2 separate regions of the Homo sapiens genome follow, and region 1 is linked to region 2. Evidence: fine-mapped expression QTL. A gene starts in region 2. The other region holds a variant in brackets. All regions are shown on one strand. Distances are between the middles of the regions.

The links. PIP is the estimated chance that this variant, and not a neighbour inherited with it, causes the effect. A credible set is the group of variants that fine-mapping cannot tell apart.
Region 1: its variant is the best candidate, but not a certain one, in a credible set for the expression of PPP1R3C in lung (TOPMed, PIP 0.89).

The regions. Positions count from the first base shown.
Region 1 is chr10:91,606,795-91,611,069 of GRCh38, reverse strand. The region is part of intron 1 of HECTD2-AS1 (HECTD2 antisense RNA 1); the gene reads left to right. Among named protein-coding and RNA genes, the nearest start is that of HECTD2-AS1, 2.5 kb to the left of the region's middle. The variant T/C (reference allele first, on the strand shown) is at 2,323.
Region 2 is chr10:91,631,354-91,635,628 of GRCh38, reverse strand. PPP1R3C (protein phosphatase 1 regulatory subunit 3C) reads left to right here and starts at 2,558. Exons shown (of 2, transcript NM_005398.7): 1 at 2,558-2,673. The coding sequence starts at 2,660. RefSeq lists enhancers at 1,926-2,425, 2,426-2,927 and a silencer at 2,452-2,591.

The sequences.
Region 1 (4,275 bases), 25 kb after region 2:
GGGCAGAGGGCTTGGGATCAGATCTGAGATGGAGGTTTAAACTGGTCTTGACTAAACTGAATAGCTGAAAGTGACAGGAAGTAATGGAAACTGTGAGATATTTTAAAGGGGGGGAAAGAGGAGGAGATGATTTGACATAGCAAGTCAAGGATAGTGGAAAAAAATGAAAACTACATTGTGTTTATTCTCTGTGGATTTGAAGCTTCTTGGCAAATTGGTCCATTTATTTAATTGTGTGTGCATTTATGAATCGTCTCTTTTAATCAGACTTTAAGTTCTATGAGAGCAGGACATGTGTGTCTTATTGACTGCTTTACCCACTTTACCTAGTATGGAGTCTGGCAAAATAAATGTTGAAGTGAAAAGTAAAAGACACCACTATAGGCATGGGGAAGCTTAATTGGTTATGAATCCTGGCATTCCAGATGTCTGACTAAACCCCCCGGTAGATGCTCTGGAATCTTAGATGATAAAGAACTTTTAGGAAGAGGACCTCAGGGCAGGAGTGAAGAACACGTGCACTATAGCTATACAGACCTGGGTTCAAGACACTGCACCCCATACTCTACACTCCTGTCACATAACGTAACATTAGAGCTTCACTTTCCTCCTCTGACATGCCTTGATCATGTTTACCCTTCAGGATTCTTGTGGAATTTAAGTGACATTATGCATGTAAAGGCCTCTGGATTAAAGGGAACTCTTGTACACTGTTGGTGAGAATGTAAATTAGTACAGCCATTTTGGAAAGCGGTATGATGGTTCCCGAAAAAATGGAAAATAGAACTACCATATGATCCAGCAATCCCACTTCTGGGTGTACATCCAAATGAATTGAAATCAATACGTTGAAGAGATATCTGCACTCCCATGTGAATTGCAGCATTATTCACAATACCCAAGATATGGAAATAACCTAAGTGACCATCAATAGATGAATGGATAAAAATTTTAGTATATATACACAACAAAATACTATTCATCCTTAAGATAGAAGAAAATTCTGTTATTTGTGATGACAACATGAATTAACCTGGAGGACATCATGCTAAGTGAAATAAGCCAGGCACAGAAAGATAGATCCTATGTGATCTCACTTAGAATGTGAAATCTAAAAACTTCAAACTCATGGAAGTAGAGAGTAGAATGGTAGTTATAAGAGGCTGATAGGTGGGGGCAGATAGGGAATGGGGAAATGTTGGTCAAGGTGTACGAAGTTTCATTTTTAGACAGGAGGAGTCAGTTCTGGGGATCTGTTGCACAGCATGGTGGCTATAGTTAATAATAATATATTGCATATTTCAAAATTGCTAAAAGATAGATTTTAAATGTTCTCATCACAAAGAAATCGTAAGTATGTGAGTTGATGAGCCTGTTAAATTAGCTTGATTTGATCATTCTACAATGTATACATATATCGAAATATCACATTGTACCCCATAAATATGTACAATATTTGATAATTTTGAAAATAGATAATGTGGCTCAAACCATAAGAAATTTTTGGAGTAGCCAACTTGAAACTTACAGCTTTAAGGCTAAGAACTTTGAGAGTGTGGGTGTGGGGTGCCCAATTCTATATATGGGAATGATGAGGAGAAGCTAAAGGACTTTTCAAGTGTGTGATGTAGGAGTCAGGTGGAGATTACATATGGGAAAAGGCTTTGCAAACCATGAAGTGAGGAAAAGTGTTCACACACTTATAGCCAGAACACTGCAAGAGTTAATAATGGTCCTATTGCAGGCTCAGGGGCCTATCGTTTATTTATAGAAATGCCTTGGGGAGTTACAGATGGGGAGGGAAAGCAAAGAATGTGTTTCTGTGCATGCCTGTGTGTGTGTGTGTGTGTGTGTGTGTGTGTGTGTGAGAGAGAGAGAGAGAGAGAGAGACAGAGAGACAGAGAGAGAGAGAGAGAGAGAGAAATGTACAGGTTTAGCTTTTTCTGAGTTTCTATTTAACACACACCCCCTACCTCCTCCCTTCTCCCTTTTCTACCCCCTTATCTCCAGGCTGTCTCAGTGTCACCTCCTCCGGCCAGTTCCTTCTGGACACCTTGTCTGTCCTTGAGCTATCATGTAATCCTTCCGGGTATTGCCTCAGCTAGCGAGAGCCCAGTCCTGGCAGAAGCCACCCTGCAAATAATTCACTGTGAAAGCTGGGCTTGTTCTCTTCAAAGGGTAAAGTGGGCTAACGAGAAGGGACGAGAGCGTCCCCTGCCCCACCTCCACTCCCTCACAAGTTCTCTTTGGAAACTACCCTTCCCCTTCCTGGGATGACCTCTGTCCTTAATGAAATGGGAGAAACAGAATGTCAAGACTTGT[T/C]TCCTTTCCAAATAAAAGAGGAACGCGCTGAAGTGCATTTTAAATGCTGTCTGGCAAGAGTGGCGGGTTGGGGGAAGGGAGGAGGCTGACTTGCCTTTCTTTGCTAGATATCTGGGCACTTGGCCCACACGCTCTTTCTCCGTGAGATTTGAAGGGCAATGTGTCATTCTGGGAGAGGTCTGCAGTTTCTCCAAATATAAACTTTGCTGTTCTTAGGGTCATCATGTACAAGGGCAGTTGTGTTCATAGAACATATTAGGATTTAGAGGGATAGATATTAAGTAGGAGACCCCAAAGAAGTTTTGGGTCAGATTCCTGCTCTACTCCAGGGCCAGGGCCTATGCCCAGGACAGTGGAAAATAAAAGGAGTGCTTAAAATATTGGGAGCTGTAAGGAGTTGAATGAAAGGAGCACCCTTAAGGGATAGGGTGTCTGGGAACAGCTTCTTAAGTGGCAATATGAAGGATGGGTGGAGTTTGGACAGACACAGAGGAAAAGACGGTGTTTCTGGAAGCCACAGAGCACGAAAAAAGGCAGGAGGTGGCAATGACTATGGTGTGGTGGGAAAGCAGAGAGAAATGTGGTTGGCCACAGTCTGGGGCTGTGATGAGGATGAATGTAGCCAAATGATGGAGGTTGAGGAAAGTAGTCTTTTTAAAATTTAGGTAAAAGGGAGACAGACTGAAATTTGTCTTTCTCTGGATGCAATGCAATGTGAGCAGAGGATTAAAAAGTGGCCGGATGACTCAGGGAGACAGAGAGGTCAGTTGGGGGAGTCATTGTAGTAGCTCAAGTGAGAAGAGATAAAAACCTGGACTGAGGATGGCCAGTGAGCCTGACTGGATTAAGAGGAGCAAGGCAGCCCAGCCCCTCTGAGTGAGCTGCTTTTGTGGCCTTCTAGTACAGAATGAGAAGAGGTTCTTGGCTGGGCTAGCTTGGCCATAGTTATCTAGGGACTGGAAAGTGGCTTTCTGCTTATGTGAATGACTTGTATGACAGTACTGGATGCAATGCGCTCTTGATGTTTCCTCTTCAACTCAAGAGTATAGCGTCTGTGGCTGTTTGTTTCTAATTATTTCTTTTGTAGTTGGCAGTGATGGCCAAGAATTGGAGGTCAGTGAGCATGCTTTTTGTTTGGCTCAGTGAGTGGGTTTTGATTTTTTGTGGGAGATTGTATTCTCAGAATTTCAATTGCTAACTTTCTTTTCATTAGACAGGAGTCGTGTATTTACTGACCTTTTTTTAAAGAGCCTGTGAAACAGTGATGATTTCTGAGCAGTCAAAATGGTGATGAAGAATTTGCATTTATTATTGCCATCTTGATGTGCTTATCTCTTTTTTATTTTATTTTATTATTATTATACTTTAAGTTTTAGGGTACATGTGCACAATGTGCAGGTTAGTTACATATGTATACATGTGCCATGCTGGTGTGCTGCACCCATTAACTCGTCATTTAGCATTAGGTATATCTCCTAATGCTATCCCTCCCCCCTCTCCCCACCCCACAACAGTCCCCAGAGTGTGATGTTCCCCTTCCTGTGTCCATGTGTTCTCATTGTTCAATTCCCACCTATGAGTGAGAATATGCGGTGTTTGGTTTTTTGTTCTTGCAATAGTTTACTGAGAATGATGATTTCCAATTTCATCCATGTCCCTACAAAGGACATGAACTCATCATTTTTTATGGCTGCATTGTATTCCATGGTGTATATGTGCCACATTTTCTTAATCCAGTCTATTATTGTTGGACATTTGGGTTGGTTCCAAGTCTTTGCTATAGTGAATAGTGGTGCAATAAACATAGGTGTGCATGTGTCTTTATAGCAGCATGATTTATAGTCCTTTGGGTATATACCCAGTAATGGGATGGCTGGGTCAAATGGTATTTCTAGTTCTAGATCCCTGAGGAATTGCCACACTGACTTCCACAATGGTTGAACTAGTTTACAG
Region 2 (4,275 bases):
AGCTGAAAGGGAGAGTGACTTCTATGGCATTAGTCAACACCAGGGGGCAGGAGAGAAAGCTGTATGAATGGAACAGGCTGAAAGGGTGGTGTGAGTAAATGGCACAAGCATGTGAAAATTTCCACCACGGTTCTTGGCACCTAGCAGTACGCTATATGTGTTAGTTGAATCCCAGAGTTTTAACGCCCTTGAAAAATTATTTCTTAATTAGGTCGTGTATGTTCATTGTAGAAAAATTAAGAAAAACAACAGAGCAGCAAAACAACGAAGACATTTTTAATCACTCATAATCTCACCATTCCAAAATGAACTGTTCACATTTCTGTAGAGCACATTCTGTTTTCTATGCATGGATACCTTTCCCTCAAAATGCGATCACCATAAATTGTTATTCATGTTTCTCCATAGTTTTAACTGGTAATATTTACTATTTAGCTCAACATATAATCATGGGTAGAGGAAAAGAATACCCAGGGTTCTAGTTTTGGCTCAGACCTAGCCAGCCCCTGGCAAGCAGCTTGACCTGTCTAAGCTTTCAGTTCCTCATCTGTGAAATAAAGAGTTTGATGCCTATCACCTCCTACCTCCATAATTCTAACCATTGATGGGTCATTAAAATAAGACAATATGGTGCAGCGGTTATTGCTCTGGTATCAGCCAGGCTCTAATCCCTGCTCTACCTGTGAGAACCTGGGCAGGTTTTTTTTTTGTTTTTTGTTTTCGAGATAGAGTCTCGCTCTGTTGCCCAGGCTGGAGTGCAGTGGTGCAATCTCAGCTCACTGCAACCTCCGCCTCCCGGGTTCAAGCGATTCTCCTGCCTCAGCCTCCAGAGTAGCTGAGAGTACAGGTGTGCACCACCATGCCCGGCTAATTTTTGTATTTTTAGTAGAGATAGGGTTTCACCATGTTGGCCAGGCTGGTCTTGAACTCCTGGCCTCAAGTGATCCACTGGGCAGATTTCCTGACCATTCAGTGTCTCCGTTTTCTTTTCTCTAAAATGGGATTAATAATTGGACATATCACATAGGGTTGTTGTGAGGATTGAATTGATAGCACATAGTGTTTGGCACAGAGTAAAGGCTCAACAAGCAGCAGCTATTCTCAATATTTTAGCTCAGGCACCAGGCGCCTTGAGGTGATAGAGTAAAAACTCTAGCTGAGAGATCAAGTAGAAACTTGGGAACTAGCCCGGGTGGAACACAGGCACTGGGCATCGTGCTGAGTCTGTTCATTGGCACCATCTTACTTCATCTTCAGAACGTTACTATCTCTGTTTTACACATGAGGAAACTGAGGTTAGAACTTGCCTAGATTCGTGTAGCTAGTAAGTGTCAATCCAAAGACCTTCCAGCTAGTTTTGGTTGAGCTAAAGGGGCTAGAAGACCTGCCATTAGTTAGATATTTCATTTCAAAAATAAAACCCAGGCATGAAGTCCCTTTCCCAGTGATATTCAGTGTGATTTTTTTCTTCACTCTAATAATTTTAACAATTCCACTGTTTGACAGTTGTTTAAAAGACATAGGAATTTTTGTATATTTTAATTGACTAATGGATAGCTCAATTAGGGGAGCAAAACTAGGATGTGGGTTTTATAAAAATAATTTAGACTTGACTTAGACATTTAATTTTACAGTTGTAAATGATGGTCTAAAAATTCTTCAAACTAATCAAAATAATGAAACTTCAGCGAAAGTGAGTGGCTCAGAAGGCCCATGAAACATACGGCGTGATTTTTTAAATTTTATTTTAACATTTTGATTTCCACACCACTGCCAAAGGACGTCAGAATTGAGTAAGGGGTTTGGGTTGACTGCTGCCTCTTGACCGGCTGTATGTGTGAAAAGGGTCATTTCACTTCCGGCTTTAGTGTTCCCCGCAGGGGAGAAAATTGAAGAATAGACAGAAATACGAAGTGTCTTTTAATTAAATGCCACCTTGGTGTTTTATGGGGCTCGTATGCTTTCCTAACAACATTTGTTAGATAAGTTGGTAATTCCCGGCAGCTGTCTACTGTGTGGTGCATCTGTGAACTCATACTAATCGAAAAGCATGCAGCCAGTTTGGGATCGCGCAGGCTAAGGTGAGGGAGAAATGCGGATACACCGGGTAATGAACGATATAAACATTTCAAATGCGATACACATTCGGTTTGAGCCACATCTTCTGTGTGCAGATTCACCCGCAGTGACCCACAAAGCTATTCCCAAGTAACAGCCGCCCCAAGCCTGAGGCACTGGCGCCCCGCCTGGGCGAGGCTGGCTGCGCTCTCTCTTGGCCGGCGCCCGCTGCATGCGGTACGTGCCTGCCCGGCCCCTAGCCCAGGGTTCCCGTTACGCGGCTGGTTCCAGCTGGCCGCGGAGTCCCAGAACCTCCCCGCGATGCCCAGATAGCTCTCTGCACGTCTCGCCCCGGGGCGATCACGTTGCCGGGGCGAGGGCTGGCGCCCCAGCTGGGCGCTGGTTGGTCGCGCCCTGGGGCTCGAGGCCCGGCGATTGGTCCCAGGGATCGGGTCACGTGCTTGGGAGCAGATAAGCGGCCTCTAGGCGCCGGGCCCTCAGTCTCTCCCAGCGACCGCCGCGGGGGCAAGGCCTGGAGCTGTGGTTCGAATTTGTGCAGGCAGCGGGTGCTGGCTTTTAGGGTCCGCCGCCTCTCTGCCTAATGAGCTGCACCAGGTAGGTTCGCTGCAACTCTGCGCGCTAGGAACACAGGGGAACGCGCAGCTGTGGGGAAGTTGGGGGGCGTTTCAGTTCTATCATCTCTGGAAATGGACACCCCAGGGGGAGGACAAGTGGACTGACTGCGTAGTTGAATCTGGCAACCGAGAGGCCTTGGAGGTGTAGAAATTTGGCTCTATTTCTTAAGCAGAGCCTATTTTAGTAATCAGCATCTTAAAGCAGAAATTATCTTAACGTGAATCAGCTTGAGTTAGGATTTTCTCATGGATGCGGCTGTTCTTTTGGTCCTGCACAAATGTCCCAAAGACTCGGGCAGCTGAAGTGGTGAGAACAGCACTCTGACATTGCTGGTTAGGTGGTTTAGCTTGGAGGAAAAAAATTACAGGACGACGTTTGCATTCATTCGTCCTTCTTATCACAGTTTGCCATAGCAAAATCTCAAGAGTTTGAGCAAACGATTACTTTTAACTCTTGTCCAGGACTTAAAGTTCCAAGGAAATCACCCAAACTAAAACTGTCTTTCTATAAATGCAAAAAGTAAAAAAAAAAAAACAAAAAAACCAAAAAAAACCTCCCATAAAACTACTTTAAATAGCTTCTCCAGACATAGCTTAGCAGAAGACTTCTCTAAAAATCCTGCCTATTAACTATTATTAGACCCACAAATATAGCTTTAGCTTTCATTTGTTTGTTCTAAGTTTGCAGATCTCCCAGAAAAACCCCAGAGCTAACACAGTAAATTCTGCGAGTGTTATTACACACTTTTGTGATAATGACCACTTGCATACATGTTTAGAGCTGCTGTGAGGAGAGTTACTAAAGCCAGACTGAGAAATGTCGTGTACAGTATACACACACCTCTTACTTGTAAGGCTAAGATAGGGAAAAAAATCTTAATACCATAAGCTTGGAAATATATGATGAGGGCTAAAGGTCAGAGAAAAGTCTTCTTTATAGATGCTTCTTGGTTTAATATTGCTGAGCATAGTCATGTTTAAAACTTTAAATGGTTTTATTGTCTTTCTACTTATAAATGTCTATTAGAAAATGCCAAAAAAGAACAAAAACGAAAATAGATAATCTATAATCCTATCACCCAGAAATAATAATTATTAAATTATTAGGAAAGGTGTATTTCCTATAGAGTTTTTCAATATTTATAAGTTTGTATATATAAAATGTATATTTTAAAACACTCCAACTTTCAGGTAATCAGTTTTTCCACTTAAATGTGGACTTGTCATGGGCATCTCTTTAGGTGAATTATCAATTATATAGTTTTTAAGTGCATATGAATTGTTGGCTTGTATTTCAGTGGTTATTTGTGAAAAATAAGAGCATGATAATCAAAGTGCAAAGATGATTCTTTGACTTCTTCTCTAGCCTTCTCACTCTCAAAACTGTTGCATGTTATTTTTTTTTTTTCAAGTGAATTACCTTACCAGAGAAGTGTCAATCAATTTAGCAGCAAAATAAGCCAACGTAGCCAGAGGGAGCAGAGGGTCTGGAACTGTGGCTCCTGAACCTGTCTGGTCATTAGAATCACCTGGGAAGCTTTAAGAACATACCCATCCCTTGGCCCTAGCCCCAGAAGTTCTG